Linked DNA regions of Homo sapiens. The protein of the gene in region 4 interacts with the protein of the main gene of each other region in a pairwise test. Each region holds a gene or a part of one and is shown on either strand. Other genes may lie near its edges. The genes, in order: NDOR1, ZNF410, ZNF572, MTUS2, NTAQ1, CEP57L1 and TCHP.

Evidence for each region.
Region 1: the proteins of MTUS2 (region 4) and NDOR1 interact in binary tests that used the Homo sapiens proteins (3 or more experiments, as listed by UniProt).
Region 2: the proteins of MTUS2 (region 4) and ZNF410 interact in binary tests that used the Homo sapiens proteins (3 or more experiments, as listed by UniProt).
Region 3: the proteins of MTUS2 (region 4) and ZNF572 interact in binary tests that used the Homo sapiens proteins (3 or more experiments, as listed by UniProt).
Region 5: the proteins of MTUS2 (region 4) and NTAQ1 interact in binary tests that used the Homo sapiens proteins (3 or more experiments, as listed by UniProt).
Region 6: the proteins of MTUS2 (region 4) and CEP57L1 interact in binary tests that used the Homo sapiens proteins (3 or more experiments, as listed by UniProt).
Region 7: the proteins of MTUS2 (region 4) and TCHP interact in binary tests that used the Homo sapiens proteins (3 or more experiments, as listed by UniProt).

What each region holds. Positions count from the first base shown.
Region 1 is NC_000009.12:137,208,700-137,212,199, reverse strand, and holds part of NDOR1 (NADPH-dependent diflavin oxidoreductase 1), read right to left. Parts: intron 1-3,500. UniProt on the Homo sapiens protein: NADPH-dependent reductase which is a central component of the cytosolic iron-sulfur (Fe-S) protein assembly (CIA) machinery.
Region 2 is NC_000014.9:73,917,859-73,921,358, reverse strand, and holds part of ZNF410 (zinc finger protein 410), read right to left. Parts: intron 380-3,500; coding exon 254-379; intron 1-253. UniProt on the Homo sapiens protein: Transcription factor that binds to the sequence motif 5'-CATCCCATAATA-3', and is specifically required to silence expression of fetal hemoglobin in adult erythroid cells.
Region 3 is NC_000008.11:124,976,295-124,979,889, reverse strand, and holds the end of ZNF572 (zinc finger protein 572), read right to left. Parts: intron 3,543-3,595; coding exon 2,032-3,542; 3' UTR 501-2,031; downstream 1-500. UniProt on the Homo sapiens protein: May be involved in transcriptional regulation.
Region 4 is NC_000013.11:29,019,339-29,022,838, reverse strand, and holds part of MTUS2 (microtubule-associated tumor suppressor candidate 2), read right to left. Parts: intron 1-3,500. UniProt on the Homo sapiens protein: Binds microtubules. Together with MAPRE1 may target the microtubule depolymerase KIF2C to the plus-end of microtubules. May regulate the dynamics of microtubules at their growing distal tip.
Region 5 is NC_000008.11:123,437,274-123,440,773, reverse strand, and holds part of NTAQ1 (protein N-terminal glutamine amidohydrolase), read right to left. Parts: coding exon 3,440-3,500; intron 2,641-3,439; coding exon of another isoform or gene 2,558-2,640; exon of another isoform or gene 2,445-2,557; intron 1-2,444. UniProt on the Homo sapiens protein: Mediates the side-chain deamidation of N-terminal glutamine residues to glutamate, an important step in N-end rule pathway of protein degradation.
Region 6 is NC_000006.12:109,171,713-109,174,918, reverse strand, and holds the end of CEP57L1 (centrosomal protein CEP57L1), read right to left. Parts: 3' UTR 501-3,206; downstream 1-500. UniProt on the Homo sapiens protein: Centrosomal protein which may be required for microtubule attachment to centrosomes.
Region 7 is NC_000012.12:109,903,274-109,906,773, forward strand, and holds part of TCHP (trichoplein keratin filament-binding protein), read left to right. Parts: intron 1-647; exon of another isoform or gene 648-663; coding exon 664-874; intron 875-1,463; coding exon 1,464-1,520; intron 1,521-1,555; exon of another isoform or gene 1,556-1,741; intron 1,742-3,298; coding exon 3,299-3,367; intron 3,368-3,500. UniProt on the Homo sapiens protein: Tumor suppressor which has the ability to inhibit cell growth and be pro-apoptotic during cell stress. Inhibits cell growth in bladder and prostate cancer cells by a down-regulation of HSPB1 by inhibiting its phosphorylation.

The DNA.
Region 1 (3,500 bases), on a different chromosome or scaffold from region 4:
CCAGGCTCTGAGCTGCCAGGAGCAGCTCTGCACTTGGTCTCCAAACTGTCCACCGCCCCAGGGGTCCCTCACCTCCACCTGTCATTTCCCAGCCAGAGCGTGGGCCTCCACTCCCTGAGTTGGTCTGTCCCAGAGGCTCCTATACTCAGACCTCTGAGGTCCATCCCAAGGGCTCTCACACTCGGCCCTCTGAGGTTCCAGTGTCGCTGAGACACATCCCCCTCCTTCCGTGGCTGCAGGACCTCGAGCCAACAGGGTCCAGATCCTCTGGTTCCACACCGTGCCTTCCACGGTGTCCTCCCAGCTTGATCAGAGGCCCCCCCAAGGAACCTACTGCCCCCTCCCTACCTGGATCCCAGGTGGCCTGTGTGCGTGGTCTTCGCCGCCCACCCACCTCCCCTTCCCGTGGCCAAGCATGGAGGCTAGCAGACAGGGAGGCCCTGGCCTTGTCAGCCCACAGCTCTGACCCTGGCCCTGGACCACCCCTGGCCTCCCGGGACCTCACTGCCTCATCAGCTGCCTCTCTGGGCCACGCTATGCGAGCAAATGTACCCAGCCTCTTGCCCCCGAGACCCTCCCTAGCGCCCTGCTGTTGAGACACCCTTGCTTCCTGAATCCCAAAAGACTCTCTTCCCTGCTCCGTTTGGTGAACTTCCTCCTTCCCGAGAAAAGGGTTCTGGAGAGAACATTCTTGTGACTTTTCCCTCACTCGACTGGCATGCGGCTGGGTCTGTCCTGGGCTTGGCACCACCACTGAAAAGCCAGGGCCCCACTTGCTGCCCTTGGGGTGTGTAGGGCACTCTGTCCCCAGAGGCTAAACCCACAGTGACATGCCCCGGGGGTAGCCCTTTCATTCTCAGCAGGGCCCTTCCTGGGCATGGGGCTCTCTGGCCGCAGACCCCGCTCTAGACATCATTACTTTCCTGGATAACTTCCTCTCCACCATTGTCTTCTCATTCTGAGGCCACTGGAATTATCTTCGAATTTTGGTATCTGCTTCCTTCCATTTTCTATCTTGCTTTTTGTCATACTTTCTAGAAGGATTTCTCATCTTTTTTTGAGATGGAGTCTCACTCTGTAGCCCAGGCTGGAGTGCAATGGTGCGACCTCAGCTCACCGCAACCTCCGCCTCCCAGGTTCAAGTGATTCTCCTGCCTCAGCCTCCCAAGTAGCTGGGATTACAGGTGCGTGCCACCATGCCCGGCTAATTTTTGTATTTTTAGTAGAGACAGGGTTTCACCATGTTGGCCAAGCTGGTCTCGAACTCCTAACCTCAAGTGACCCACCCACCTCGGCCTCCCAAAGTGTTGGTATTACAGGCGTGAGCCGTCGTGCCCGGCCTTTTTTGTTGTTGAGACAGGGTCTCATTCTGTCATCCAAGCTGGAATGCAGTCTTGAAATCACAGCTCACTGCAGCCTTGACCTTCTGGGCTCAAGCGATCCTCCAACCTCAGCCTCCCAAGTAGTGGGGATTACAGGTGTGTGTCACCACGCCCAGCTAATTTATTATTATTTTGTTTGTAGAGACTGGGTTTCGTCATGTTGCCCAGGCTGGTCTCAAACTCCTGGGCTCAAGCGATCCTCCCACACCTTGGCTTCTCAAAGCGCTGGGATTCCAGGCTTGAGCCACTGTGCCCAGCGTCTTCTAATCTTTTAAAGTTTTTTCATGTCCATTTAAAGAACTATTTCTGGCCAGGTGTGGTGGCTCACACCTGCAAACCTAGCACTTTGGGAGGATGAGGCAGGCAGACTGCTTGAGCCCAGAAGCTTGAGACCCCATCTCTACAAAAAATACAAAAAAAAAAAAAAATTAGTTGCATGTGGTGGTGCGCACCTGCAGTCCCTGCTACCCAGGAGGCTGAGGTGGGAGGATCACCTGAGTCTGGAAGGTCAGGGGGCAGTGAGCCGTTGATGGCTGCCACTGCACTCCAGCCTGGGCAACAGAGCAAGAGCTCTGTCTCCAGAAAGAAAAAGAAAAAGAGAAAGAGAAAAAACTGTTTCCTGTTCCTGAGTCTCCAGCTTTGCCCCGTGGGGGTAACATCCTTGGCTGCTTCAGCCTGTGCCCGTCTCTGCCTGTTATGCGGGTCTTTCCTCGGGTGGGGTGTGGTTCTTTCTGGTGCATGTTTTCACCCAGGCTGGAGTGCAGTGGTGTGATCTCGGCTCACTGCAACCTCCACTTCCTGGGTTCAAGTGATTCTCCTGCCTCAGCCTCCTGAGTAGCTGAGATTACAGGCATGCACCAATACACCCAGCTAATTTTTTGTATTTTTAGTAGAGATGGGGTTTCGTCATGTTGGCCAGGCTGGTCTCAAACTCCTGACCTCAGGTGATCCACCCGCCTCGGCCTCCCAAAGTGTTGGGATTACAGGCTTGGGCCAGCGCGCCCAGCGCCCCATGGGTTTCTTCACCAGACAGGCAGGGACCTGGTCACTTGGCCTTTCACTGTGGTTCCTCTGTTTTCTCCTGTCTGCTGCTGGGGGCACCTGCCTCACCTACAGCATCCTCAGCAAGGAGCCAGGGTCTTCCTGTTTCGCTGTGGATGGAGAGCCAGGGTCCTCTGGTTTAGCTATGGATAGCCACTAAGACTCGCCCCTGCCTCTGAGGCCATGGGCCCTGGGTCCACAGCCTCTTCAAGGAGCTCCCAGTTCCCGCTGTGGGCATTAGCTGCCCCCTCCAACTCCTGGTCTTCTCTGTGGGTGCCCACACTTGGGACTCTTCGTTTCCTCGTTGACCTGAATCCCGGCATTAGCACCAGCTTCCTGCCACTGGCTGACTGAATGCCCAGCCCAGCCTCAGTCCCTCTCCTCTCCCATGCTCTGGGGCTTCCCTATCCCACCATTCCCCTCCCGTGCCTGTGCTCCACTCTGAAACCCCTTCTCTTCCATCCCACTCTATCTGAGACCCCTCGACCTATGTTCAGCTCTCCCCCAAGCCGCTGCACATCCCCTGCCATACCTACTCAGTCTTCAGCCTCTTTCTCCTGTCTCTCCCCTGCCAGCAATTAAACATGCCAAGTTTTGGCCGGGTGTGGTGGCTCACGCCTGTAATCCCACCACTTTGGGAGGCTGAGGCAGGTGGATCACGAGGTCAGGAGATTGAGATCATCCTGGCTAACACGGTGAAACCCGATCTCTACTAAAAAAATACAAAAAATTAGCTGGGCGTGGTGGCGGCGCCTGTAGTCCCATCTACTTGGGAGGCTGAGGCGGGAGAATGGCGCGAACCCGGGAGGCAGTGCTTGCAGTGAGCTGGGATCAACGCCACTGTACTCCAGCCTGGGCGACAGAGCGAGACTCCGTCTCAAAACAAACCAACAACAACAACAACAAACAACAACAAAAAAAACATGTCAAGTTTCTCCCGTCTTTTTTTTTTTGAGACAGGGTCTTGCTCTGTCGCCCAGGCTGGAGTGTAGTGGTGTGATCACAGCTCACTGCAGCTTTAACCTCCCAAGTTCAAGAGCTCCTCCCGCCTCAGCCTCTGGAGTAACTGTGATCACA
Region 2 (3,500 bases), on a different chromosome or scaffold from region 4:
GCAAATTATCTCATTTATCAGATTGCTTTGTTTTATTGGTGGGCGGACAAGCAACAAAAAGTATATAAATTTTAAAAGGTTGCAGATGATTCTACTGTATAGCTATGTTTGGAAACCATCAGCCCATCAAATGAGACCAGGTCTATCTACCCAAAACAGAATCAGAAAATTTCCAGATAAGCAGGCAGGACAGTGATTTGGCTCTTGGAACCCTAGAAGTAGTACAGCGTTCCACTATGCCCACCCTCCTCACCAGTTTGCTCCTGCTCTTGACTCCCAGCTGCTCCCAGCTGCAGGTGATGCTTTCTCATATGCACATTCCTGCTTCCACTCTGAGAGAAGGTCTTCCCACAGACTTGGCACTGATGAGGCTTCTCTCCTGAAACAGGGACCAGGTTAAACAAGGAAGCCAAAAGGACAGGAAGAGAATGAACTCAAGACCTAGATGGAGAAACCCAGAGAATGTTAAACTGAACATAAGCAGCTGCTCCTTTTCCCATTCCGCACCTTCCCAGCCTCTCAAACTTCAGTATATGGGGGAAGGCAGGAAGAGTACACCAGGAGGGCTTTAGCACACTCCCTGCTCCCAGCTGCTGGTCCTTTCCAGACCTTCTGTAATGCTGCCTTCACAAAACCTCTTTGGTATAGGACCATGGCAACCACAAAAAATATGCCTTCTTTTTCAGTTAGTCTTCCATGGACCTCTAGGACATGTGCTTTCCTCAAGGATTTCAATCCTGTGTTCCTAATATCCCCTTGTCATATTCCCTGCCACCCTCTTTAGGGTCATCAACATTCACACTGGTGGCTCTTACAACATAATAATCTAAATTGTCCTCTATGTCTTCAAGTCCCAAACTCTCCGTCTCCATTCTACCTACCCAGAAAACCATACTTAGAGCAGGGGTCAAAAACTCATGTCTATAGGAGACTGATAGGTAGCAAAAGTAAGTAAAATGGCCAAGTGGGGGCTGCAGTAACCTAGAGAGTACCTAGAAAAGGGGCAGCTGTTATTCAGCTCTAGCCAACTGTTGCCATGGGTAGATTAAGGCAGATTCTCTGATTTTTTTTTAAGACACTGGAAATAAGGATTTTTAAGTAGAATCTCCCAATTTCTAAATGCTAGGAACAAATTCACAATTGACAAACACATGGTACAGCAATCATCATTGCTGATTGTATTTTGCTGGGAATGCAAAATACAAAAACCTCTTTGGGGGAATCTGACCAGATCTAGAAAAATTGTAGATGCACTTGCCCTTTGACCTAGGAATCCCACTTCTAGGAATATGTCCCAAAATTACAGCAGCAAAATGTGAAATACTCTGTGCACAAGGTTATTCATCACGGCAACATTATTTTAAATGGCTAAATACTGGAAACAACGTAAATATTCATCACAGAGACTGACTAAAAAGCTATAGATACTGCAGTAGTCCTGCATAGCAAAAAAAAAAAAAAAAAAAAAAAAACCTATACAATAGAAACAGGGTGGAATATTACAAAGCTTAGAACTAAAAACTGAATCACCATTTGAACCAGCAATCCCATTACTGGCTATCTACCCAAAGGAAAATAAACTGCTCTACCAAAAAGACACTTGCCCTCACATGTTCAATGCAGCACTATTCACAACAGCAAAGACATGGAATCAACCCAGGTGCCCATCAATGGTAAATACGATACAGAAAATGTGGCACATACACACCATGAAATACTATGCAGCCATAAAAAAGAACAAAATCATGTCCTCTGCAGCAACATGGATGCAGCTGGAGGCCATTATCTTAAGCAAATTAACACAGAAACAGAAAATCAAACACCATGTTCTCACTTATAAGCGGGAGCTAAACACTGGGTACTTATGGACACAAAGATGGGAACAATAAACACTGGGGATTCCAAAAGCGGCTACGGGGCAAGGGCTGAAAAACTACCTATCAGGTACTATGTTCACTGCTTGGTCAACAGGGTCATTAGTAGCCCAAACTTCAGCATCTTGGAATATACCCTTGTAACAAACCTGCACATGTACCCCCTGAATCTAAAATAAATTTATTTTAGCCAGGTGCAGTGGTTCACACATGTAATCCCAGCACTTTGGGAGGCCGAGGCGGGCAGATTACTTGAGGTCAGGAGATCAAGACCAGCCCGGCCAACATAGTGAAACCGCATCTCTACAAAAATTAGCTAGGCGTGGTGGCGGGCGCATATAATCCCAGCTGCTTGGGAGGTTGAGGCAGGAGAATTGCTTGAACCCAGGAGGTGGAAGTTGCAGTGAGCCAAGATCATGCCACTGCACTCTAGCCTGAGCCAGAGTGAGACTCTGTCAAAAAAAAAAAAAAAAAAAAAAAAAAAAAAGGCCGGGCACGGTGGCTTACTCCTGTAATCCAGGCACTTTGGGAGGCTGAGGCGGGAGGATCACGAGGTCAGGAGATCAAGACCATCCTGGCTAACACGGTGAAACCCCATCTCTACTAAAAATACAAAAAGGTAGCCGGGCGTGGTGGCGGGCGCCTGTAGTCCCAGCTACTCGGTACGCTGAGGCAGAAGAATGGCGTGAACCGAGGAGGCAGAGCTTGCAGTGAGCCGACATCACGCCACTGCACTCCAGCCTGGGAGACAGCAAGACTCCGTTTAGGGGAAAAAAAAAAAAAAAAAAAAAAAAAAAAGGCCATATGAAATGTCCAGAACAGGCAAATCCAGACACAGAAAGCAGATTAATGGTTGCCAGGGGCTGGAGAAAGAGAGACATGGTCAATGATACTAATAATGGGACTTCTTTTTCTTTTTTTAATCATCTCCTGGATATGGGGATCCTTTTTGGGATGATGAAATGTTGTGGAGTCGGACAGTAGAGAAAACTGTAAAACTATGAATATATAGTTGGCCATCCACATCCATTGATTCAACCAAGCAGATAAAAAATATTCAGAAAAAATAAAAATAAAAAATAACAGGCCAGGCGCAGTGGCTCATGCCTGTAATCCTAGTACTTTGGGAGGCCAAGGCAGGTAGATCACTTGAGGTCAGGAGTTCCAAGACCTGGCCAACATGGTGAAACCCTGTCTCTACTAAAAATATAAAAATTAGCCAGGCACATGCCTGTAATCTCAGCTACTTGGGAGGCTGAGGCAGGAGCATCACTTGAACCCAGGAGGTGGAAGTTTCATTGAGCCAAGATCGTGGACCACTGCACTCCAGCCTGGGCAACAGAGCGAGACTCCATCTAAAAAAATAAATAAATAAAAAATAACAATATAGCAATAAAAAATACAAATAACCAATATAGCATAACTATTCACATAGCATTTACGTTGTATTAGGTACTATCAGTAATCTAGAGATGATTTAAAGCATATGGGAGGATATGTGTAGGTTATATGCAAATACCATGCCATTTTATGTAAGAGACTTGAGTATTTGTGGATTTTGGTATCTGTGGGGTCCTGGAACCTATACACCACAGATAACAAGGGATAATTATATTACTACTAAAA
Region 3 (3,595 bases), on a different chromosome or scaffold from region 4:
GATCCCTTGAGCCCAGGGGTCTGAGGGTGCAGTCAGCTATGATGGTGCTAGTGCACTACAGTCTGGGTGACAGTGTGAGACCTTATCTCTTAAACAATTAATAAGGGCCGGGCGCAGTGGCTCACGCCTGTAATCCCAACACTTTGGGAGGCCAAGGCAGCTGGATCATGAGGTCAGGAGATCGAGACCATCCTGGCTAACACGGTGAAACCCCATCTCTACTAAAAACACAAAAAATTAGCTAGGCGTGGTGGCAGGCACCTGTAGTCCCAGCTACTCGGGAGGCTGAGGCAGGAGAATGGCATGAACCCGGGAGGCAGAGCTTGCAGTGAGCCAAGATCGCACTACTGCACTCCAGCCTGGGCGACAGAGTGAGACTCCGTCTCAAAAAAAAAAATAATAATAATGAATAAGAAAAAAATAAAAATAAAAAGCCAATAATGCCTAATGTTTTCCCCCTTTTTTGAAAGCAGAAAATTTCCCCCAAATTCTCCAATACCTTTATTTGTTAGTTTTTGCTTTATTTTTGTAATCAAATAACAATACAAAAACACACAAATACCCCGCCAGCATCAGGTGCACCACAATCATGAAAGATAAAATAACCCCCATGCAATTAAATGACCATCAGCTACAGAACTTTGCAGCAGCTACAACTGACCCATTCTGGCTTCACATTCCTAATATGCATCTCTGCATATTATTCATAAAATACATTCTGAATCCAAAAATTAGATGAAATCATGGGCAACTCAGGAGTCCTAATCTTCCTACTCATCTACCTTTTGCACTAGCAGGAAAAAAATGGGAGGAAGGGAATAGGATATATCTAATAATTTCCAAAGCATCATTCCCATAGGAATGAGTAGGGAAGATGGGACCTCAGTTATCAGATCCATATACCAATTATGTCAAGAGGCAAAAGAAAACTGTCAGTACCAAAGCTAAGAAGTCTCAGTACTCCTTAATGACAAACTGTCCTTGGACACTGGCTCAGATTTAGTGAGTTAATTATTAGAAAAAGAACCCAGTTCTTGAGCTGACCAAGAATTACATAATGGGATAATTTAGGGAAAAGGCTCTTCATTGCAAATTTTAAGATAGAATTCAGGAATCCTGCCTTCTATTCTGGCTTTGGTCAAGACAGTGAGGTCATATCACTAGATAACTCAGTTGGCAGCACATGAATTAGAACACACAATCATTAAAATATCCAATGTCTAAACCCAGTGTCTTCAATACTCTATCCCAATTCTACTCTATATTACAATTCTTTTTGGAGAGCAAACCCTCCAGAACACACTTCTACAGTCTTTATAGGAAATATTTATGGGTCTGTCAAGAATGATGATCTTGAATGAAAGAACCTTCTATAATATCCAATACAGTAGCCGCTGGTCACACAGAGCTACTGAGCACTTAGAAAGTGGCTAGTGTGACTGAGGAACTGGATTTAAAATTTCAATTAATCTTAATACAAATAGCTACATACGGCTAGAGGCTATGGTACTGGACAGTATAGTTCTAGATGGTACGACAGTTAATTTTTAGTGACTAAAAATGCATTTGAAAAAAAAAAATCTTAAGCCCCCAACAAAATAGCCAGGAAATCACATTATTTGCTCAAAAATACCCTTTCTTTGGGTAAACCCCTGAGGCCAGTAATGATGTATCTCTACCCAATAAGGGAAGAGAAAATAAAGTAATTCAATAGCAATTCTAGCTTCGGTTCTCATGGTTCCTTTGCTTACTCTCAGGATTACTCTGTATGTGTTCTTTTGAAGCTATTACTATCTTACCTTAAATTTTTAAAAGTCCTCCTTTCTTCATCCTTGGTGGATGAATCTCTCACTGGACAGATCCAATAACCTGGTGATTGGGGTCTTCCCATCCTTTAAACTGGGAGGTTGACTTTTTCCAAATGTTTTGACAAACACATCAAAGAAACTTTATAGCACAACAATCACAGAATACCTAAATTGTCATGGTCCAACAAGGAAGAAAAAACCATCACCAACCAGGCTTTGGGACTCAGGAAGATGAATTTGAGACGGAAAATGAAGAGATGAAGGGCATTTCCCCTGAACAGTTTTTCCAAGTCCATTCATGAGGAAAATCCCCAACGTCGGGAGACTCAAAAGGCTTTTCTACGTGAATTTTCCGATGCTGACTGAGGTAGGCACTTCTGCTGAAGCATTTCTCACAGCTGGTACATTTGTAAGGTTTTTCCCCTATGTGGGTCCTCCGGTGCCTGATAAGGTTAAAGCTCTGACTGAAGCTTTCACCACAATCAGGACATTTATAAGGTTTCTCTCCTGTATGTGTCCTTTGGTGAATCACCAGGGTGGAACTCTGACTGAAAGTTTTCCAGCACTCAGAACATCTGTAAGGTTTTTCTCCTGTATGTGTTCTCTGATGTCTAATGAGATGGGAGCTAAGGCCAAAACTCTTCCCACATTCACAACATCTATATGGTTTCTCTCCTAACTGGATTCTGCATTCTTCTATCACATTGCAGTTCTGACCCAAACTTTCCTCATATTCAGAACTTTCATAGGATTTCTCTCCTGTGTGCATTTTCTGGTGTGTAATAAGGTTTGAACTACGACTAAAATTCTTCCCACATTCTGGACATTGATAAGGCTTTTCTCCTGTATGTATTCTCTGATGTTTTATTAGAGTAGAATTACAACCAAAGCTTTTTTCACACTCAAGACATTTGTAGGGCTTCTCACCTGTGTGTGTCCGCTGGTGGCGAATGAGGCTGGAACTCTGACTAAAACTCTTCCCACAATCAGGGCACTTATAAGGTTTTTCTCCAGTGTGAGTCCTCTGATGTTCTATTAGGACATAGCTGTGACTGAAGCCTTTTCCGCAGACAGAACATTCATATGGTTTTTCACCTGTATGTGATCTGTGATGCTGAATAAGGTGAGAGCTGCTGCTGAATCTCTTCCCACACTCGGGACATTTGTAGGGTTTCTCTCCCGTGTGAGTTCTCTCATGGATAATAAGATGGGAGGTATTGCTGAAGCTTTTCCCACATTCACCACACTGGTAGGGCTTCTCTCCTGTGTGCATTCTTAGATGCTGAATCAGGTGAGAACTGTTACAAAAACATTTTGCACACTCAGAGCATTTATAAGGCTTTTCTCCTGAGTGGGTCCTCTGGTGAGTACGCAAATGAGAACTATTACTGAAGCTTTTCCAACATTCGGAACATTTATAGGGTCTGTCTACAAAGGATGAATTCTGCTGGACACAGGCATTGGTATGTTCTCCTGAGTCCCATTCCTGGTGATTGGGTTTTTCCTCCTCTTTAGCTATAAAATTTCCCCAATTCTCTGACTTGCCATCACTCTCATAGGAATCATGACACCAAATCTCATCTTGAACCCATGTCAGTGGCATTTCTTTTGCATCCTCATGCTTATAATGTTGTGGTCTATGTCTTTTAGACCATTCTGAAGGTTTCTCTTTAAGTTTATCTGCCTTAGAATTATTGTGGTGAACAGTTTCCAAATTATTCATACTTGTATCTCCTGCAAGAATAAACAAATATTCTAACCATATTCCAAATCTCTGCCAGAGAAGT
Region 4 (3,500 bases):
ACACAGGATATGCTTTTCTGTTAAAGTAGACTCACAGATCACCACTAAACCATTCTATTCAAGGTTGACATTGTTTCATCCACTATTATGAGTGCATTTTATTAGGCACTGGGGATAGGGGATTTTAACAGCAACAAGGTTCTGCCCCGTCACCAATTCCCCCAATGGAGACTTGAAGCCTTCCACACTTTCCTCCTCATTCATCAAGAATGTGCAAGCACACGTGCACACCACATGTGAGGCTACTGTTATGTTTCTCCTGAAACAGGTTACATGGCAACGTGGCCACCCACTTGTTTTCCCTTTATCCCTGTTAATATGTTGTTTCATATATTAAAAAGAATATGAGGGCTGGACACAGTAGCTCACACCTGTAATCCCAACGCTTTGGGAGCCTGAGGTGGGAGGATCACTTGAGGTCAGCCTTGGCAACACAGCAAAACCCTATCTCTATTTAATAAAATGTATATGTTACAAAGCAAAATAATATAACACGTGACAGCCCATCACCCAACCCAAGGACACCTTGCAGCCATCCTCATGCTCCTCCTCACTGAAGCCCTCTGTGTTTCCAACTTAGAGATCTCTTTTCTTTTGCGTCTATACATAAGCATGTAAACTTTTTTACATACATAAGATCATTTCCTATAAGCTGGTTTTTGTTCCATTTTTTAAAATTTGCCTCTTCTAGCCCATACCCCAAGACACATTAACATCTAGATCTTTCCATTTCTTTCCCCATGTTTGCATGATCATGGGAAAATACAGAGTCATACATGTGCATGTGCGCTTGCATTTCCGTACCACACTGCTCTTCTGTTCTTTCCACGACTCCCTCACTGTCCTCATCCTCCCCGCTCTCATGCTTTTTCTCCTTCTCCATCTTCTACCAGCCTTATCTCCACTAAGCCAGTAGCACCCCCTGGTGCAGCCTGACCCCAATATAGCCCTCAACCAAGTTGCTCATACCCTGATCACAGTCTTCATTTCCTGACACAGAGGGGATTCTCAACAAACCCTTGTGTCTTTGTTTATTCAATTTTAAAAGCGTTTCCCTTGAAGATACACATGTTCTCTAAGCACAAATACAAAAAGCATGTAGGCAAATCAATAAGATCACAGTTTAAAAGAATGCTGTGCTCTCTGGGATGAGAAACGGGTATCTTGCAAAGTCAAGAAGGGCAAGAAAGTTCATAAATATAGGCCATCCACAGAAGGGAACTGCCTCTAATTTTCTGTGGGCAGAAGTATAAATATGCAGCCAAGAGCCCTCTTCGGTTTGAATTGTTGAAGCTGGGAGAAAGAAAGAAACTTTGCTCAGCAGAGACAAACAAAAACAAAGTACCAAAGTCCACAACATGTAACATGATTGCAAGAAAGTGACAAAGAAATATAAAACCAATGTCATGCTAGAAAGAGTTGTATTTTAATTTTTAAGGAACTACATCATAAATGTTCTTTATCTTTGTCAGTAAACAACTGGTACTCACTGGTAAGGGGACAGAAAGAAAGGTGGAACCTCCTAGGGGCCCAGTATTTTCTCAGCCATTATACAAATTTGTTTAAAAAATTGAGACAGTATCTCATTCTGTTGCCGAGGCTGGAGTGCAGTAGCACGTTCATAGCTCACCACAACCATGAGCTCCTGGGCTCAAGAGATCCTCCTGGGTCAGCCTCCCAAGCAGCTGGCACTCCAGGTGCACACCACCACATCTGGCTAATTTTTTAATTTTTTGTAGAGATAGGGTCTCGATACATTGACCAGACTAGTCTCAAACTCCTGGCCTCAAGTGATCCTCCTATCTTGGCCTCCCAAAGTGCCAGTATTACAGGCATGAGTCACAGCACCTGGCCTAAAATTTAATTTTAAATTAAAATTACACAATTACAAGTCTTTAATATTCAATTTTAATTTAAGTTAGGACACTTAATAATATTTATAGCAGGCCTCCAGAGACAGGTCTTCACATCCCCTTGCTTTTTTTTTTTTCCCACGTCCTGGTAAGGAAATGAAAGCACAGAGAAGGTAACATTCCCAAGGTCACACAGCTCATGAGTGGCAGAGCTGGGACACATTTAGAAAGCAGAAGCTGTAAAGAAGAAAAGCTGCCCATGAATGGAATCATACACCACACAGGAAGAACAAAAGGAAAACAAACTATTGTAAGAACAAGAATAGAAAAACAAAACCAGAAACCAACACGTGGAAGTTCACATAAGACAGGAAAAGCAAATTTAAAAACTTTCTTCAATTTTATCAGGCAAAATTATATACAGGAAGTCATGTTTCCTGTCAGCTTCCCTCCTCCTTATGTGGCCTCACGCGTCTCCCTCACTCCAGCTCCCTCATCCTGCCATAAGACAGCGGCAAAGTAAACACAAACACGAATTTCTGTCCGGATCTAAATTTCAATCCAAGGCCTTCTACTAAGATAAACGTTTTCACAGAATATATAACATGATCACAGAAGTTCAAACTTGTACATAATACAAGACTGTGTGTGATTAAATAAAATATGCAAATAGGTCAACCAATGGTACAAACCCCTAGTTGAGGTGCATTTTCCCAGAGTGAGACATGTAACTTTCATATGCCTCAGATCTATTATTACAAAAAGTTAACAATAATGGCCTTAGAAGTAATTGATATTTTATCTTGAAAAAAATCAATTAGTTCAGTACTAGTTTGAAAGGAATGTAAAGATCTAGGCTTATAACCTACCTGATGCTTAAGAGTCTTCTAAGTGGCTTCCCCTGGTTCTAGGGCCAGAAAACTCACCACACATCTGGGCAGGGTCTCTGTTGGCAAGCTCTGCCTCTCTACAGCAGAATGATGCAATTCTTCCACCAGATGACCTTTCAGGTATTTACAAAGAGCTATATGCTCCCTTCCTCCCAAAACCTATTCTACTCCTTGTCAAAGAACTCAGATTCTCCCAACTGTGGGATTAGCTTTTGAAAACTCCCACCATCCAAACAGCTTTCCTCTAAGTACACCGTGTAGCACCAGGGAACCTGAAGTCCCTCCTAAACAAGGTGACCAGAGCTATGCACAATACTTCAATTCTAACTGCACCATCTAGAGTCATAAGAAAGCAAGCCTTCCATTCTCTTCTACTTCTAACCACGCATTCTAAGAATGACCTCCTCATGGACATATAAATCACCCTCTAGTTCCACATCATTAATTAAAACACCAAAGTACCATATAAGTTGTCCTAAACTCCACTGACCCAATCCGAGACATTTGTAACTGGTTTTAGCACCCATGGGTGGGATCATAAAAATATACTTCTCAAACATCACCTTGCTGGTCTCAATGCATCGTTCTATCCTTTTAAAACTTGTGGAGCCCATCCTTAATTTTTCATCGAAAATATCTGCAATCCATTCTTGTTCCCATACTATCGTGGAAAAGCTAAGAGTTCCTTCTACATTATCATTCATTGATAATCCACTGATAAATCACTCACTGGTGTCATTCATCGACACCAATGTTA
Region 5 (3,500 bases), on a different chromosome or scaffold from region 4:
ATCCCAGCACTTTGGGAGGCCGAGGTGGGCAGATCACTTGAGGTCAGAAGTTAAGAGAACAGCCTGGCCAACATGGTGAAACCCCATCTCTACTAAAAATACAAAAATTAGCTGGGTATGGTGGCACACCTCTCTAATTCCAGCTACTTAGGAGGCTGAGACAGGAGAATTGCTTGAACCTGGGAGTTGGAGGGTGTAATGAGCCAAGATCACGCCACTTCACTCCAGCCTGGGCAACAGAGCAAGGCTTTGTCTAAAAAAAAAAAAAAAAGAAGAAAGGAACGCTACTCTCAACCTTTACTCAGAAAGACGAAAAGCAGCCAGGCGTGGTGGCTCACGCCTATAATCCCAGCACTTTGGGAAGCTAAGAGGGGTGGATCACTTGAGGTCAGGAGTTCGAGACCAGCCTGGCCAACGTGGTGAAACCCCGTCTCTACTAAAAATACAAAAACTAGCCAGGTGTGGTAGTGGGTGCCTAGAATCCAAGCTACTTGGGAGGCTGAGGCAGGAGAATCGCTTGAATCCAGGAGGCAGAGGTTGTAGCAAGCCAAGATTGTGCCACTGCACTCCAGCCTGGGCAATAGAGCAAGACTCCGTCTCAAAAAAAAAAAAAAAAAAAAAAAAAAAGGAGTTAATCCTGGCCAGCGTGGTGGCTCATGCCTATAATCTCAGTATTTTGGGAGGCCAAGGTAGGAGCAATATACTGAGACCCTACCTTGATTAAAAAAAAAAAAGAGTCAATTCCATAACTAAATCCAACATACCCAATAATGCATGTATCTAAAACATGCATTAATTTAAAGTCTGTTTTCTTTTTTTTGAGACAGAGTCTCCCTCTGTCACCCAGGCTAGAGTGCAGTGGTGCAATTTTGGCTCATTGCGACCTCCACCTCCCAGATTCAAGCAATTCTCCTGCCTCAGCCTCCTGAGTAGCTGGGATTACAGGCGTGCACCACCACGCCTGGCTAATTTTTGGTTAATATGGGCCAGGCACAGTGGCTCACCCCTGTAATCCCAGCACTTTGGGAGGCCAAGGCAGAAGGATCACCTGAGGCCAAGAGTTCAAGACCAGCCTAGCCCACATGGCAAAACCTCATGTCTACTAAAAATATAAAAACTAACCAGGTGTGGCCGGCGCGGTGGCTCACGCCTGTAATCCCAGCACTTTGGGAGGCCGAGGCGGGCAGATCACGAGGTCAGGAGATCGAGACCATCCTGGCTAACACGGTAAGACCCCATCTCTACTAAAAATACAAAAAAAAAATTAGCCGGGTGTGGTGGCGGGCGCCTGTAGTCCCAGCTACTCAGGAGGCTGAGGCAGGAGAATGGCATGAACCCGGGAGGCGGAGCTTGCAGTGAGCTGACATCGCACCACTGCACTCCAGCGTGGGTGACAGAGTGAGACTCCGTCTCAAAAAAAAAAAAAAACTAGCCAGGTGTGATGGTGTATGCCTGTAATCCCAACTAATCCAGAGGCTGAGGCATGAAAATTGCTTGAACTCAGGAGATGGAGGTTGCAGTGAGCTGGGATCGTGCCACTGCACTCCAGCCTGGGCAACAAGAGTCTCAACAAAAAAAAAAGAAAGAAAGAAAATTGGGCTGGCAGTGCTCACCTCGGCAGCCCATATAGTAATTGGGCTGGCAAAAGCCCAGCACAAAACAGCATCCAATGACTAGTAGTCATCAAAACAAAAGGAATTGCCCCAGTTGGACCAGGGCTGACAAGGGGTTCACTAAATGCCTGCGATGCACTAGGTTCTGTCTTAGGTGCTCACATCTCAAGGGGAAACAGGTAGCTGCTAAAGGCACACTGTGGCCAGACCAGGCCCTGTAGAGCAGGTTGCCATAGATGCTAAGGCAGACCCCTCGAGCCCTCTCCTTACCAGGGAGCTTCCCCAGTTCTCACACTGAGGCCAGGAAGCAGCTCTGTGTACTGATAAGCAATTCCAATATAATTTTTTAAATTATGAGAGCTTTTCATAGAGAGCCTCAAAAATCAGAGTTTGAACCCTCTCTTAGTGTTCAGTCCCCTCAAATATGCCAAATGTATATTTTACTTTCTTCCGTTAAACTATTTTTTTCTTTTTCTTTTTTTTTTTTTGAGATGGAATCTTGCTCTTGTCACTCAGGCTGGAGTGCAGTGGTGCGATCTCGGCTCACTGCAACCTCTGCCTCCCGGTTCAAGCAATTACCCGGTTCAAGTAATTCTCCTGTCTCAGTCTCCCAAGGAGCTGGGACTTCAGGCACACACCACCACACCCGGCTAATTTTTGTATTTTTAGTAGAGACGGAGTTTCACCACATTGGTCAGGCTAGTCTCGAACTCCTGACCTCAGGTGGTCCACCCACCTCAGCCTCCCAAAGTGCTGGGATTACAGGCATAAGCCACCACGCTCAGACCCTTGTTGAAGTACTAACACTACTGCCCTATTTTTCTGACATGCTGCAGAGCTCACAGAGCACTTTCACACAGACTGTATTATCCAGGTGTTGGGATGATCTCACCCCTAAGTGGGAATGTTGTGAATTACTTACAAACGTAAATAATACTTCAAACTCATATGAATGCCAAACAATAGTAATAGGGTGAAGGACCCTTTATCTTCTTAAATGTCAGGAAATTATCAACTGGATTGATGCCTAAAAGCACATAAATGAGACAAGTGGTACAATAAAACCTGCTAGCGCTCACCTCCCTCTAATGCAGATTTTATTATATAGCCAAAGTGACATTTCACACATCATAAGGATGCAATGGGGATTTCTTTCACCACAGCACAAAACCCTACCATGGCAAGGTGCTACTAGTCCCGCTGTTAAATGACACAAGCATGCGAGTATCCTGATGTTCAGTGTCCCCGCAGTAGCTACATCCAATAATCCAGCAGTTTGCAGGTGCCCTGGTTCTGATCCTTAACACCCTTCCTCTCCCACATGTTCTTATGCCTTCCAGTCCTATTCTCTGTGCCTTCATTTCTGAATCTAATACACACACAGAAGTAGTATTTCCTATGACCTCCTTATCATTCATGGAATTTTTTGTTTTTTGTTTTTTGTTTTTTTTTTTTTTTGAGATGGAGTCTCACTCTGTCACCCAGGCTGGAATGCAGTGGCCCGATCTCAGCTCACTGCAAGCTCTGCCTCCCAGGTTCGCACCATTCTCCTGCCTCAGCCTCCCTAGTAGCTGGGACTACAGGTGCCTGTCACCACACCTGGCTAATTTTTTGTATTTTTAGTAGAGACAGGGTTTCACCGTGTTAGCCAGGATGGTGTCTATCTCCTGACCTCGTGATCCGCCCACCTCGGCCTCCCAAAGTGCTGGGATTCACTCATGGAGTTTTATTCAAAGAACAACCTGACTTTTGTCCTCCGTTAAGGAAAAATGCTGATGTGTATGTGATCAATCAGAACCCCCATCTGAGAAGGCATCTTGGCTCACCTCCAGTCTCAATGCAGGGATATGGCGGCGGAGGCTCTCTCCAATTCCCACTGGAGTCTTT
Region 6 (3,206 bases), on a different chromosome or scaffold from region 4:
CTCCCAGGTTGGAGTGCAGTGGCATGATCATGGTTCACACGGCCTCCATCTCTGGGGCTCAAGCAATCCTCCCATCTCAGCCTCCCAAGTAGCTGAAACTACAGGCATGCATCACTATGCCTGGCTAATTTTTAAATTTTTTTTGTAGAGATGAGGTCTCACTATGTTGCCAAAGCTGGTCTCAAACTCCTGAGCTCAAGCCATCCTCCCACCTCAGCCTCCCAAAGGACTTGGATTACAGGCGTGAGCTACCACGCCCAGCCTGCGTATTAATTTTTAAAAACCATCTTTTTTCTCCTCAAAAAGGAAGGCATAGTTCTTTGTAATAGTCCATTTGTAATTACACAGCTTTCTTTCTCCAAAGTCAATGTCCTTTCTCCCTCAGAAATATGCTGGAGATTGAACAGTCAGAAAAAAACATCATTTGAACACACTATTTAGGGATATCTAACTCCAACAGACAAATCTACCATGAAAAAGAACAAAATATACACAGTGAACAAACTTGGAAATTGTTTTTATGTAACTTTAGAGCAAAGGGTAGAAACTTTACAGAAGGTTTTGCTTGGTTTGTGTAACCATTCTACAAATAAGCCTGGATCTGTGATGGGATGGGAATGATTGCTGCCAGCTTGTCTGGAACATTATGACCTCTGCAAGAAATCTGAAAAGTTCTCAGTGCATAACATACTCTCTCCCTTCTCAAAAGAAAAGAGTAAAGTATCCATCTTAGACACTGTAATTTATATCCATTAGGCCCTATCTCCTAACACTGCTTCATTGGAGATGGTTTCCAACACAAGGTTTTTTTTTTTTTTTGAGACCAAGACTCACTCTATGGCTCAGGCTGGAGTGCAATGGCATGATCTCGGCTCACTGCACCCTCTGTCTCCTGGGTTCAAGCGATTCTCCTGCCTCAGCCTGATGAGTAGCTGAGACTACAGGTGCATGCCACCACACCCAGCTAATTTTTTTTTTTTTTTTAGTAGAGACGGGGTTTCACCATGTTGGAGGCTGGTCTCAAACTCCTGACCTCAAGTGATCCACCTTCCTTTGCCTCCCAAAGTGCTGGGATTATAGGCGTGAGCCACTACGTTCAGCCCCAACACATGGCTTTTGAGTGACATATTGAAATCATAGCATGTGACTGATTTCTATTTCTAATGGACACAGAAAAATTCTGCCGGGCACAGTGGCTCATGCCTGTAATCCCAGAGCTTTGGGAGGCTGAGGTGGAAGGATTGCTTGAGCCCAGAGTTTGAGACCAGCCTGGGCAGCAAAGTGAGACCGCGTCTCCTCAAAAAAAAAAATTTTTTTTTTTTTTTAATTAGCCAGGTGTGGTGGCATGCACCTGTAGTCCCAGCTACTTGGGAGGCAGAGGCAGGAGGACTGCTTAAGCCCAAGAGTTTGAGGTTGCAGTGAGCTTTGATTGCATTCACTCCACTCCAGCCTGGGTGACAGAACAAGACCCTGAAAAGAAAAAAAAAAAAAAAAGAAAGGTAGGGGGCGGGCTGAGGGGGAAGGAAAGGAAAGATTCCTTTCTTCTTTATCTCAAACTCTCAATAGGCCACCCTTGAATAAACTGGAAGGAAATAATATTCTTTAAATGGTCTCATGTTCCAACTGACCTTTTAGGATTCAGGAAAAAAATTAATAAAAATTATTAATATAACTTGTAAGTAATACAGTGTCAGGAAAATGCAAAAATAATACTGTAGAAAATGACACAATTAAAAAGTACACAAACAATGGTATACATGGTTAAATATTACACAAAAGTATCCCTTTACTTTTCACAGACATGTGGCTATTTGCATAGGTTCAAAAAAAACATGTTCTCCTTCCTACCAGGCAATAATTAACAAATCACTTTTGTAACCATCACCATGCCACACATCTCATTAAAGTAGATATGGCAAACCCATTATTAAGCAAAGCAGTCCAAGCAACTTGGCTGAGGTAAATTGACCGGTTCTTGGTTCCTGACTTCAGTATAGTATGTGGGCAGTATCTTACACATAAAGAAATGACAACCTCTTGGGCTTGAAAAAGCCTCCAGACAAAGTTAACTCCTATGTTGTAGTAACACATGGCCCTAGTTTTATTAACTAGACTTATAAGAAGGTCTTTGTATACTAAGCGTAACCTTTTATCACACTCACATAATAAAACTAGTCATCAAACTAATGATACTAAATCAGAAAATCACTAAGCAAATTTATGGCCAATTCCATGCTTTAGGAGGAAATTTGGAGGCAAGACTGACACCTTAACCAGAGGCCATGATAGGTAAGCAATGCACATCACTTTTGGGTCAGAAAACAAAAAACAATACCGCAGTAAAGGATCAACATAGCAAGTCTTGATTGTGTAAACTTTTCACATTCCAAAGAAATGTTTGTCCTGTGTCCAGATTCAAGATAACCTCTAAGTCCTTGGACTATCCTGCCTGATATGAATGTTTTAATTTACTTGGGGGCCTTAGGCCATACCAGGTAGTCTAAGCTAACAATGTGATTAATGGTGAAGTCCTTAGGCCATGTAGTATCAGCTCCATCTTTGGAGGGGCTGAAAACTGAAGGTCAGCCACATGGGCTATCAGTCATGCTATGCCTACGTGACCAACCCTCAAGAAAAAATCTGGACACCAAGGCTTGGTGGAGCTTCCCTGGTTAGCAATTCTCCAAGAATGTTGTCACACATTGTTGCTGAGAGAATTATGGTCTGTCTGCTGAGAGAATTATGGTCTGTCTACATGACTTCACAGGTGAAGGACAACTGGAAGCTTGTGCCTGGTGTCCCCCAGACTTTGCCCTATGTGCCTTTTTTCAGCTGCTGATTTTAATATATATTCTTTTGCTATAATATACCATAACCATAACTTAACAGCTTTTCTGAGTTCTGTGAGTCCCTCCAGTGAATCACTGATCCTGAAGGTGGTCTTGGGGACCACCCGAGATAAAACACTGAGGTAAGGTTAACAACAAAAACAGTCACCACACTGTCTAGTTCTCATTTCCCATGTAAATGAAACCTTGAGCCTTTCCTGTAAATTACTAATAACTATATCCCTGGTCTTGGCAATGCTGATATCTAAGGATACATGATGACCTCTGATATGATGATTATCTGAGGAAACTGTTTTCCACCATGAAAAGAATAACTAAACTTGGTGACTTTGGTAATTTTGTAGGTTTTTTCATTTT
Region 7 (3,500 bases), on a different chromosome or scaffold from region 4:
GAGGCCTTAAGGATTTAGGGAGCGTAGGATTTGCCAGGCAGTATGAATTACCTGCATGGTGATGTTTTTCCAGCTGGAAATGGAAAAAAAGATCATCAGTGCAGCCATACATTGGCATTGAAAAAGATAAAATGATGCAGAAGCATATGATAGAATTTGGAAGCCTGGTTGTAACCCCATATCCCCAGAGACAGCCACAGTTAACAGTCTGGCACATATCCTTCCATGCTGTTTCCCACTGGTATTTGTGCTTAAATATACACACACAAAGCTACTTTTATAGAAATACGTGTAAAAACATGGAGGCCAAAAGCATAGGCTTTGAAGTCAGACCTAGATGGAAATCCTGACCGTGTCTCTTGCTGAATGTATGAGCTTTGGTTTCCTCATCAATCAAGTGGGGCTACAGCAGACCTATGCTGTAGGATTTATGTGATGGATAATATATACATTATTTATACATTTATACATTTTCTTTTTGCAAAAAACAAGATTTTCTCTTACACATACTATTCTGTGACCTGCTGTCTCTGCTTTGGCTGGGGACACATTCCTGTGTCGTCATGACACATCTACCTCAGCCTCTTTTACCGACACAGCAGAGCAGAGCACGTTCCCTGTGGCTGTAGCATGATTGATTCAGGCAGGCCCCCTCTCACCCAGCATGCATGCCTATCAGCGGGAGAAGATGAAGGAGGAGAAGAGGAGGAGTCTGGAGGCCCGACGGGAAAAGCTCAGGCAGCTCATGCAGGAGGAGCAGGACCTGCTGGCCAGAGAACTGGAGGAGCTGAGGCTGAGCATGAACTTGCAGGAAAGAAGAATCCGGGAGCAGCACGGGAAGCTGAAATCAGCCAAAGAAGAGCAGAGGAAACTGGTAACTCCCCAGAGGGCTTCAGGAGGCTGTGGAGCAGGAGTGTTCCCAGCCTGAGTGTGTCGCACATGTAGGGTCATTCCTGGGTGCTCAGGTCTGATGAGATGCCAGTTAACTCCAGAGCCAGCAGGAAAAGAGCTTAGGTCCTTGTGCAGGGACTGGGTTTTGGATCAGTTAGCTGTAGTCTCTTTAGCCCCTTCAATCATTACATCTGAGTGCTTTTCCTTTCTTCCAGTTCTGTGGGTCCACAGAGATCTGGGACTAGTCTGTTTTACCTTCCAAAGTAGTTATGTGAAACAGTGAGCCCTAATCTGTGCTTTTCAGCCTGCTGTATTATTTTGAGACCCCCTAGATAGGACCTCTGTGTAGCATCAGATTTTGGCCCCCTTTTGTCATCATTGCAAGAGTCACTTGGTAGTGCCATGTGGTTCTCAGAGCTGTGCATGTGAAGCATGAGGGTTTGAACAGTGGTTGCAGTGACGGTGTGAAGGGAGGCACTCATAGCCTGAGCTGACTTCCACTGTGTGTCATCCAAAATGTGAATGGATTTGAAAAATGACATCAGGCTTTCCATTTTGTGTTTTCTTGATAGATTGCTGAACAACTTTTGTACGAACACTGGAAAAAGAACAACCCGAAACTTCGAGAGGTGAAAATCAGAGATCTCCATTGATTTATCTAAGTAGATGAAATCATGTTTCCAGACACTTTTTTTTTTGAACACGTATCTTGTACCGGGTTGAAACAGAGGAGGGAACCTTGAGCCACCTGAAAAGAGCGCCAGGCAGAAGATCTGGCACAGGCTGCGCTGAGCGGCTCATTCGGTTGTTGAACAAATGTTGATTGAACCTCCGCTGCCTGGTCTGCCAGGTGCGGGCATGGAGATTAGACATGGTTTCTGCTCATTAGCTTGTGTCCAGCATGGGAGCTCATTACAGGGCAGGATGCAGGGTGCTGGGCCAGCCTGAGAGGATGAGCATGGGCCAGCGCACTCAACTCTGGAGGGGTTGGGGAGGCTTCCCAGAGGAGTTCCTGGGGTGGAAGAGTTTGAAGGGATGTATGTGTGTAGAGGTGAGGAAAGGATGTTCTAGGTTGATGTGACTGTGAGAACCAGGCTTGAGACTCGAGAACAGAGCGAGCCCTGGGAGCTGAAAGTGTCTGGGTGAGGCTAGGATGTCAGATAGTGAGGGAGAACCCCAAGAAATGACGCTGGCGAGGCAGAGGGTGCCAGACATCGGAAGAGCTTGTGTGACCTTCCTCCAAAGGGGCTGGGGGCAGCATACAGGATCCCAGCTGCATTTCAGAGAGACTCCTCTGGTAGCAATGTGCCCGCCGACAGGGAGGGGTGCTGCGACAGCCCAGCCGGGGGTTGGTGAAGGCCTGAACTGGGCTGGCAGGGGAGGGGGTGGCCTCTTGGCTTGGTGGCCTTGTTCAGTGGAGATTTGGCTGCAGGGAGATCATCCCTCACTGTTATTCATTTATTTTCAACTTACAGTTTTTGTATACATTTGGTGCCTTCGTGTTATTCGTAGTTACATTTAGAAATCGCCAGGCACTAAATAATGGAACATCTGGTGCTTTTGTGCAGTTTGCACTAATCTGTGGGAGGACTCCTTAGCCCTGTTGGCTTCGGTGGAATCATCCAGAGCCGTTAAATCAGAAAAGTTTATTCAGAACATTCAAGTTAATTGCCTATGTTCACAGCTGTAAGTTGGGAAAGATTATTTTAAAACTTTTTTATAGAGACAGGGTCTCCCTGTGTTGCTCAGGCTGGTCTCAAACCTGGGCTCAAGTGATCCTCCCACCTCAGCCTCCCGAGTAGCTGAGACTACAGGTGGGCGCCACCATATCCAGCTAATTTTATAAACAGTTTCCCAAACAAAAGATTTGGATTGAATGTTGTGATCCATTTTCTAATCCAGGAGATTGTCTGCGCTCAAATCTCTTACTAACAATGCTAAACTTGTTGCACCTACTGGTGCATCACTTGATACAGGGAGTACGTAGTCCATCTGCTTTGCAGAGGAAACTTCGGGGAGCCAGGCACAGGGTTGAGTCTTCTCACTCAGCTGTCTCCCAGGGCCTGGCATGCAGTACATCAACCCAAGGTGGCCTTTGAAATTGTATTTCCATTTCAGCGTCCAGCCCAACCCTAGGGCTAGTGGGAGGGAAGTCTCTGTTACTTTGTACCAGCTCAAAAGATTGGTGTAGGAGTGCCTGGTCCTTTGGTCTTCTGATTGACATGCATTCACACTATACATGTTGAAGTCACCCCACGCTCTCTACTAGACGCCTGTGCCACTGAGTCCCCATGAAGCGAAGTCATGGCCACGTTCCCGCAGGTGGCACAGAGGGCAGGAGCACACTGTCCCCACAGTGCCCATCTGTCTGGTGAGGAAATTCACATCGTCCCCCTTCCATCCTCAGATGGAGCTGGACCTTCACCAGAAGCATGTCGTAAACTCTTGGGAAATGCAGAAAGAAGAAAAAAAACAGGTGTGGTATGTGGCTCTGGGAATAGCCGCGTATTCTGCTGTGCGAGACTGTTCACGTCTTTGCATTCGTTTACCGTTTTCAGCATCAGTGACTCCAGTTAAGGAGTGTAGTGTACTCTTTTCTTAGTTTACTT